Linked DNA regions of Homo sapiens: region 1 is linked to region 2. The links come from fine-mapping of genetic effects on gene expression. A gene starts in region 2. The other region holds a variant in brackets. All regions are shown on one strand. Distances are between the middles of the regions. Region 1 overlaps TIMELESS (timeless circadian regulator). Region 2 holds the start of TIMELESS (timeless circadian regulator).

Region 1 (4,385 bases), 21 kb before region 2:
ACCACGCCAGGCTAATTTTTGTTTGTTTGTTTGTTTTTTGAGACGGAGTCTTGCTCTGTTGCCCAGGCTGGAGTGCAATGGCATGATCTTGGCTCACTGCAACCTCCGCCTCCCGGGTTCAAGTGATTCTCCCACTTCAGCCTCCCAAGAAGCTGGGATTACAGGTGCGCATGACCATGCCTGGCTAATTTTTGTATTTTTAGTAGAGACAGGGTTTCACCATGTTGGCCAGGCTGGTCGTGAACTCCTGACCTCAAGTGATCTGCCCGCCTCAGCCTCCCAAAGTGCTGGGATTACAGGCATGAGCCACCGCGCCTGGCCCAAAATCTGTTTATACAAAGCAAAGTCTCTGTGTTTCCAGGATACAAATTCCTTGGAGTTTGCATTTTGTCCCAGGGTTTTTTTTATTTTAATGTGAACCAATAATTTTATTTTTCAGAGATAGGGTCTTGGTCTCACCCAGACTGGAGTGCAATGTCTCAATCACAGCTCACTGCATCCTCAAACTCCTAAGTTCCAGTGATCCTCGTGCTTCAGCCTCCTGAGCAGCTGGGACTACAGGTATGTGCCACCATGCTGGTGAATTGTTTTTGTTTTTTGTTGAGACAGAGTCTTGCTCTGTGGCCCAGACTGGAGTGCAGTGGCATGATCTTGGCCTACTGCAACCTCTGCCTCATGGGTTCAAGCAATTCTCGTGCCTCAGCTTCCCAAATAGCTGGGACTACAGGTGCGTGCCATCACACCCAGCTAATTTTTGTATTTTTAGTAGAGAAGGAGTTTTGTCATGTTGCCCAGGCTGGTCTCAAACTCCTGGCCTCAAATGATCCACCCACTGTGGCCTCCCAAAGTGCTGGGATTACAGGCATGAGCCACTGTGCCCAGCCTGTCCTAGGCTTTTCACTGATTCCACTTTGGGTTCATGGACAACTGTCACAATCCCAACTTTATGGATCTGGAGACCGACACGACCAGCTTGAGCTTATTCCAATAATAACCAATACAGGACTAGATTCCAGACTTTCTAAAGTTCAATTTAAGGCTCTCTTTGTGTTGCTGTTGAGACAGAGTCTCACTGTGTCACCCAGTCTGGAGTGCAGTGACATGATCTTGGCTCACTGCAATCTCCACCTCCTGGATTCAAGCGATTCTGTCTCAGCCTTCTGAGTAGCTGGGATTACAGGTGTGCATCAACACGCCTGGCTAATTTTTGTATTTTTAGTAGAGACGGGGTTTCACCATGTTGGCCAGGCTGGTCTTGAACCCCTGACCTCAAGTAATCTGCCCACCTTGGCCTCCTCAAGCGCGGGGATTACAGGTGTGCGCCACCATGCCTGGCCGCAATTTAAGGCTCTTTCCACCTCACCACAATGCTTTCAAGGTATAACCAGAAAATGCTATAGCATAATTATTAGACTCTAAAATTATGAATCCCCAGGGTTTTTGTACTTGGCATGTGGTAGGTGTTCAATAAATGTTTCCTGACTGAACTAAAATATTTATGGCAGATCAGAGATTATTCTAATGGGAGAAGGAAACTGTAGTAGACTCACACTGGCCAACACCCACAAACCTCTTGCTGTCGTAGTTCAGAGCACGTTTAACAGATGAACTTAAGCTGTACAAACTGTGAGAAGAAAGAGCCCCCCTTCCTTGACTCTCCCTTACAGCTCTTTCTACATTGTGGGGCTGCCCAGTACCTGCACCACCAGGTTCCCACGGCTCCGACAGAATCGCTCCAACATTTTGAGGAAGAGGTGGGTGGTCTCCACCAGGTCACGAAGGAAAGAGCGGGGCTGGCATCTCTCATCAAACTTTCGAAAAAGTGCCAGGAATAGTTCTCGGTACTCCATCACATAGAAAATATTGTCTAGGAATGGGGAAGAGAAAGGGATGGAAGGGCTATTCTGGAAAGCTTGAAAAGGAGAGATGGATGAAGCTGGGACTGGGAAGAATGAGATTCTCATCACGAGATGGGACAGGCTGGGATCGGGGACCAGGCCAGGGCCTCACTCTTGATGATGCGGCTGCTCTCCCTCACAGCCTCATCTGGAGATA[T/A]GTCCATCTCATTCACTGTTGCCAGCAGCTCCTGATAGGCCTTCAGAGCCAAGTGCATCCTGAGAGTTGACGGGAAACGGTGAAATGGAGGACAGCTTAGGGCAATGGCCCATGGAAACAGCAACTTCCCACAGCGAAAAAAAAAAATGTGCCACCCAAACTAAATTTCCCAGCCAGTCCTTGCTCCCCAGACTGATCACCTGAACCCTGAATCAGGAAAAAAGCACCAGCCAGAATTCAAGCATTCAGATCCCTAGCTCACTGTATCTCCAGTAACCATCCCACTCACCGGCGTGCCCAGGAGGCAGCTTCCTTGCGGTCAGTCAGCATCATCTCATAGTAGTTGGTGAGGTTCTGCTCAATGAAGTGGAAGGTACGGACACTGAGGGTCTCAGAAACCAGGCCTGGCCGGAAGGAGGCAGCTCGGTTGAAGGCCATGAAGAAAGCCAAGGCCCACATATAATAGGTCTCATCATGCTGCTGAGCTTTCTCCCGAAGCAGGTGATCCTGACATTTAAAAAAGAAAAAAAAAGATCACCATGACTCCAGGGCTTCCAACTTCTTCCTTCCTGTCCTATGATGATGGAATGGATGCTGGACACCGTCATAATTTTTTTTTTTTTGAGGCGGAGTCTCACTCTATTGCCCAGGCTGGAGTGCAATGGCATGATCTCGGCTCACCGCAACTTCCACCTCCTGGGTTCAAGCGATTCTCCTGCCTCAGCCTCCTGGGTAGCTGGGATTATAGGTGCCCGCCACCACGCCCAGTTAATTTTTTGTATTTTCAGTAGAGATGGGGTTTCACCATGTTGCAGGCTGGTCTCAAACTCCTGACCTCAGGTGATCCACCTGCCTTGGACTCCCAAAGTGCTGGTATTACAGGCGTGAGCCACTGCGCCTGGTCTTTTTTTTTTTTTTTTTTTTTTTTGACAGTCTTGCACTGTCATGATGAGGCTGGAGTGCACTGGTCTGATCTCGGCTCACTGCAACCTCTGCCTCCCAGGTTCAAGTGATTATCCTGCCTCAGGCTCCTGAGTAACTGGGACTACAAATGCACACCACCATGCCGGCTAATTTTTTTTTTTTTTTGTATTTTTTTTTTTAGTAGAGATACGGTTTCACCATATTGGCCAGGTTGGTCTTGAACTCCTGACCTCAAGTGATCCACTGCCTCAGCCTCTCAAAGCGCTGGGATTACAGGTGTGAGCCACCACGCCGGGACACCGCTATAATACTCTAGGATCCACAATTTCCAACTCTCTCCTGTTCTCCCTTTCCTCTCCCTCTGAGGCAATTTTTCCAGAGCCTCTTTTGTCATGCCAGGAGCCCACTCGTTCCTGGCATTTTCACTATCTCTCAGGGACATCCTAACTGTATATCCTTCCCACCTACGAGTCCACATTCCAGGGGCAGCCTCCCCGAGCTCCTCCCCACTTCTTACCCACCAACAGCTGCATCATCACCTGTCTATTCCATTCCTGATTATCTCCATATCCTTCACAGGTTCTCACCTTTACTGATCCCATGAGCCGGTTGTAACAGTTCTCCAGGAACTCAGAGCAGAAGTCTCTGAGGAAGAGCCTCACATTGAGGGCAGAACGGCGCTGAATGGACAGCTCTCGGGCGGCCTGGCGACGTTTAGGCACCTTTTTCGGCTGCTTTCCCAAATCTGAACTGTAGTTTCGTAGCTGGGTGTGTCGGTTGGGGGATTAGAATTACTCCTAAATACCACTTTCCCCTTGCAGCTCTCGTCAATTTTCTCAGAAGAAACTAATTTTTGTTTTTCTTTTGAGACAAGAACTTGCTCTGTCACCCAGGCTGGAGTGTAATGATGCAATCATAGCACACTGGAGCCTTGAACTCCTGGGCTCAAGGAATCCTCCCACCTCAGCCTCCCGAGTAGTCAGGACCACAGGCGGGTGCCACCATGCTCAGTTAGTATTTTTCACTTGTTGTAGGGACAGGGTTTTGCCATGTTGCCCAGGCTGGTCTCGAACTCCTGGGCTCAAGCAATTCTCCTTCCTTAGCTTCTCAAAGTGTTAAGATTACAGGCATGAGCCATTGTACCCAACCTTTAATTTAATTTTTTTTTTAGAGACAGGGTCTTGCCATGTTGCCCAGTCTGATCTTGAACTTCTGGGCTCAAGCAATCCTCCTGCCTCAGCCTCCCAAAGTGCTGGGACCACAAGTGTGAGCCACCAGGCACAGCCAAGAACTCTTAAGATGATTACCCTGCTTAAGCTATGCAACTCCACTATGTTCCCACTCCAGATGTAAGAATACTCACGTTGTGAAGGCCTTTGTGAAAGATGAGGTCCCTCTCCCCAATG
Region 2 (4,385 bases):
AATAAATGCTTTACTAAATTGAACTGAAACAGAGAAGTCTGGAAGATGAGGGAGAAGAGTTTGGAGCTAAAGATTTGGAGGCATCAGGATGTAAGATGGTGTGAGTGCAGTGAGAGGAGGAAGGAAGCCAGGAAGGACTTCTTGATGACCCTTTCACTGTAACCACAGAAGACTCAATTACATGTGTTTTCCTTAGGACTTGAGTTCCTTAAGGGTCGGGAACTCTCCATCCTACTCATCTCTGTAAGCCTGGCGCTAAGCACAGTGCATGGTACATGTTAGGAGCTCAGTAACCTTTTATTGATCTTTTATTGAGCTGTATCAGTGCCCCTGGTAATAGAGGGGGGTAAAAAACTTCAGGGACACACAGGAAGAAGTGACTAACTTGGCATAGGAAGCTGGATACATTGATTTTCAGAGGGACAATTAAGCTCAGTCTTCAAAGAGAAGTTCGCTTGGCAGAGCAGTGTCAAGATCTTCCAAGCAGAAGGAACAGCAGGAACTAAGTACTGAGATATGAAAGAGGGCAGCCACAATCTTTCCACGTGGCCAGGAGTCAGGTGCGTAAGAGATTTACAAAATGAGATTGAGAGGGTCAGGGCCAGACTGAGAGGCCACAGACACCCACCTACGGATTTAAGGCTAACTGTGGGTGGTCAAAGAGGAGTTTTAAATTTAACATCAGATGATCTACCTTTACTTTGTACAAAGTACTAGTAGGGCCGGGTGTGGTGGCTCACACCCGTAATCCCAGCACTGTGGGAGGCCGACGCGGGCGGATCATTTGAGGTCAGGAGTTCGAGACCGGCCTGGCCAACATGGTGAAACCCCATCTCTACTAAAAATACAAAAATTAGCCGGGCGTGGTGGCGGGCAGCTGTAATCCCAGCTCCTGGGGAGGCTGAGGCAGGAGAATCGCTTGAACTGGGGAGGCGGAGGTTGCAGTGAGCCGAGATCGGACCACTGCACTCCAGCCTGGGCGACAGAGCCAGACTCCATCTCAAAAACAAAACAAAACAAAACAACCAAAAAAAACAAACAGGCCAGGCGCGGTGGCTCACGCCTATAATCCCAGCACTTTGGGAGGCCGAGGCGGGCGGATCACGAAGTCAGGAGTTTGAGATCATCCTGACCAATAAGGTGAAACCCCCATCTCTACTAAAAAAAATACAAAAATTAGCCGGGCATGGTGGCGCGCGCCTGTAATCCCAGCTACTCAGGAAGCTGAGGCAAGAGAATCGCTTGAACCCGGGAGGCGGAGGTTGCAGTGAGCCGAGATGGCGCCACTGCACTCCATCCTGGGCGACAGAACGAGACTCCGTCTCAAAATAAAATAAAATAAATAAAAAATTGAAAGTACTAGTCGAAGCACGAATGGCAAAGAATTGAGAGGCTCAAGGAAAAAAGCTTCATTAGCGGCTGAGGTCCAGGTGACAAACCCGAACAAGGCAACGAAGGGAGGGAGTGAGAAATCCGTTCCATAAAACCCACGATATAAGTAAAGCGGCCTGTGAATTCCGACCACTGCTGACCGCCAGGCCACACACCGGTTTTTTTCAGGAGGTCTCAACTAGATGCTAAGCTCCGAAGTGGAACTCCCTCAGGCACTTTCTGTTCTAATTCAGGAATTCCAAGCCCCTTTCCATCACAACCCCATCCCGCGGGAGACCCAAGCTGTGCGGAGCAGCGTAGGGCTAAGCCCGCGTCCGGTGAGACCCGGGAACGCGGCGCGGGAGACTAAGGAGCAGAGTACAGAATTGCGCGTGCGCGCCTGCAGCACGAGCCCCGCCCCCTGGCTCTAAACCGGGTGGCGGGAAAAGGGACTCAGCGTTTCCCGAGAATGCCCCCATAGCTTCGAAAGGATCCCCGTGTCCGCTTAGCGCCCTCTCGCCACACACTCACTCACCCGCTCCCTGCGGGTCCTCAGAAGCCCGGAGGAGCCACCGGCCCTCTGGCGCGGGGCCGCAGCCTTTCCGCCACCAGGCTCAGCTGGACCGGTCCCCGCCTGCGCGAAGAGCGAGGCGGGGCGAGCCGGGCTGGTCCACGTGACTCCGAGCGAACTGGGGCGGAGATTGGTGAAGAAGGAAGGAAAAGGGAAGCGAGTGCAGGGACTGTTTTATGTGAGGTCGATCTAAAAATCACAGCGCTATGAATTTTCTGCTGAATTATAGTAGAATCAAAGTCCGATTAGAGGTGAATTTACAAACATTCTTCCCCTTCTTCTAGTCAAGCGGACTATTCCAAGTCTTAAATAGTTAGTTAGAAAAGTTAGGTTTTATTTGGGAGGAAGTAAAGAGCTGAAGTACAGGGAGGAATGGTCTTCTGGGATAGGGGATGTCCGTTGTATTATAGGTATAAATTTAAAGCTTTCAAAGTATGCAAGAGGCTCATAAAAGGAAGAAAGCAACCGTAAATATTCATTGAACAGTTGAGGGTCTCTTCTGGCCTCTGCTGAGATGATCTTGCCAAAAGGAAAAGAAAATAGGGCTGTGCTCTGGCCCCCTGTAATCCCAGCTACTGGGGAGGCTGAAGCAGGAAGATCGCTTGAGCCCAGGATTTCTAGACTGTAGTGTGCGATGATCGTGCCTGTGAATATCCATTGCACTCCAACCTGGTCAACATAGTAAGACCCCCTCTCAAAAAAAAAAAGAAGATAGGGCTCAAACAAATAATAATCTCCTGAATTATTAAGCATTTGAATAGAAGGAATCAATTTCTGGGGTATGAGGGAGTTAGAAGAGATTTGCTTCAAGATGAAAGGACGGATGACAGAGAAATGAAAATACACAGACACAAAACAAGAAAAAAAACACGGAACTAGTGATAAAAGCAGAAAGATGCCATTTGAGGAGTGTTTTGATTTGCTCTAAATAAATTAGAACAGAGTCAAAGCCTCTCCCCTCATGCCCCCTACTACCACCCGTTCATTTATTTGCTCCAGGAATCAGATTTCCTGTGTTGGCCTTAGGGAACAATTGTGGGGCTTAAATACCATCTGCCAGGCAGCCACAACAGTGGATGTCAGGCTGACCAGTTAAGCTGCTTAATTTTTCTAGATTCTAGGCTTGCCCAAGCTCTATTTAGGTTGGAAGCTCTTTGGCCCAGGACCTCTGAAGAGATCCATTATGTCAGAATGAACACAACCAGCCAGCGGATGTAGACAGGTTTACGTGGCTTTACAGAACAGCTAAATCCTAGTGTTCACTTTTCTCAGAGCTACTTCCCCACCCAAGTCCCTGGGGCAAGCATCCCTAAGATAAGTAGGCTATATATTCCCATTAACTTCCCCCCAATTCTTCGGTACACCTACATCCTGATCTGGGGCTAATACTCCGTTTTCACCACCCACCTCCCTTGAGTCCCTTCTCCTAACCCTTGGAAGCCTTGTCTCCTCCACTTCTCTCCATCTGCCTCGTGTGAGGAGTAACTCCCTGCTTCTCTGTTCCCTCAGAAATCAAGAGCCACACACTTGACTGGCAGCAGGGTAAAGGCCAGAAACTTAAGGTGTCGGTTACCCAGTACTCACCATACTGGGTCGAGGAAGGGAGGTATAGGATGGCACCTCTTTTTGCTTCCTTAGCTCTCATGCCCCAAAACTCAGACACAGCCACACTCACATTCATATGCACAATCAGCACACACGGCGAAGGGTGGTGGGATGGGGAGGAAGGGAAGTTTGCACCAACCAGCTCATGAATGCAACTTGAAAGATTTCACACAGCAAAAGGAAAAAAAAAAAAAAAACAACCACATACATAAGTTAAAAAATAAAGAAGTACATGACCCTCCCCACAGTCTCTTTCTTCATCTAGGGGCTGGCTAAACCCCTCCACGTAAACTCAGAAGCTTTCTACTCCCTCTATTCAGCTGGAGCTTCTACAGGGCCTGGGTGTTCAGTTCAACAGGTTCCCCTGTGACCTCTGGTTGTCCATTGGAGACATCGGGTTTGGCACCCTTGAGGACAGACAGTCTCTCAGAAATACTCTTGAGCCGGGGGAAGAGAAGAAAGTCGTACAGGAGGCTGCCCAGACCCCCTCCAATGATTGGGCCTACCCAGTACACCTGTAGAAAGAGAAAAGGAATACTCAGGCTTGGGGAGGGGACAGAGTAGCAACGCTGCTCTTTTTCCAGCCACCTTAGTGGAAAACAAGATATTGTACACTTGATATCTACAATAAACTCACCATTTATTTTCTGATTCATCAAATTACTCCTTTATCCCACACCTTAGCATGTGTATATTCTATTTGTTATCAATTTGCACTAGTTTGTATGTTGCTTTCAAAAAAATTTTATACATTGTGGTAAAACACATATAAAATTTACCATATTAAATATTTTTGGACAGGCGCAGTGGCTTATGCCTGTAATCCCAGCACTTTGGG

The links. PIP is the estimated chance that this variant, and not a neighbour inherited with it, causes the effect. A credible set is the group of variants that fine-mapping cannot tell apart.
Region 1: its variant is the best candidate, but not a certain one, in a credible set for the expression of TIMELESS in iPS cells (PhLiPS, PIP 0.89).

What each region holds. Positions count from the first base shown.
Region 1 is chr12:56,426,539-56,430,923 of GRCh38, forward strand. It overlaps TIMELESS (timeless circadian regulator), which reads right to left. Exons shown (of 29, transcript NM_003920.5): 9 at 4,343-4,385; 10 at 3,567-3,743; 11 at 2,345-2,562; 12 at 2,011-2,114; 13 at 1,698-1,867. Among named protein-coding and RNA genes, the nearest start is that of TIMELESS, 21 kb to the right of the region's middle. The variant T/A (reference allele first, on the strand shown) is at 2,056.
Region 2 is chr12:56,447,404-56,451,788 of GRCh38, forward strand. It overlaps TIMELESS (timeless circadian regulator), which reads right to left and starts at 2,023. Exons shown (of 29, transcript NM_003920.5): 1 at 1,907-2,023. MIP (major intrinsic protein of lens fiber) reads right to left here. Exons shown (of 4, transcript NM_012064.4): 4 at 2,099-4,062. The coding sequence ends at 3,877. RefSeq lists enhancers at 904-1,424, 1,447-1,566, 1,677-1,766.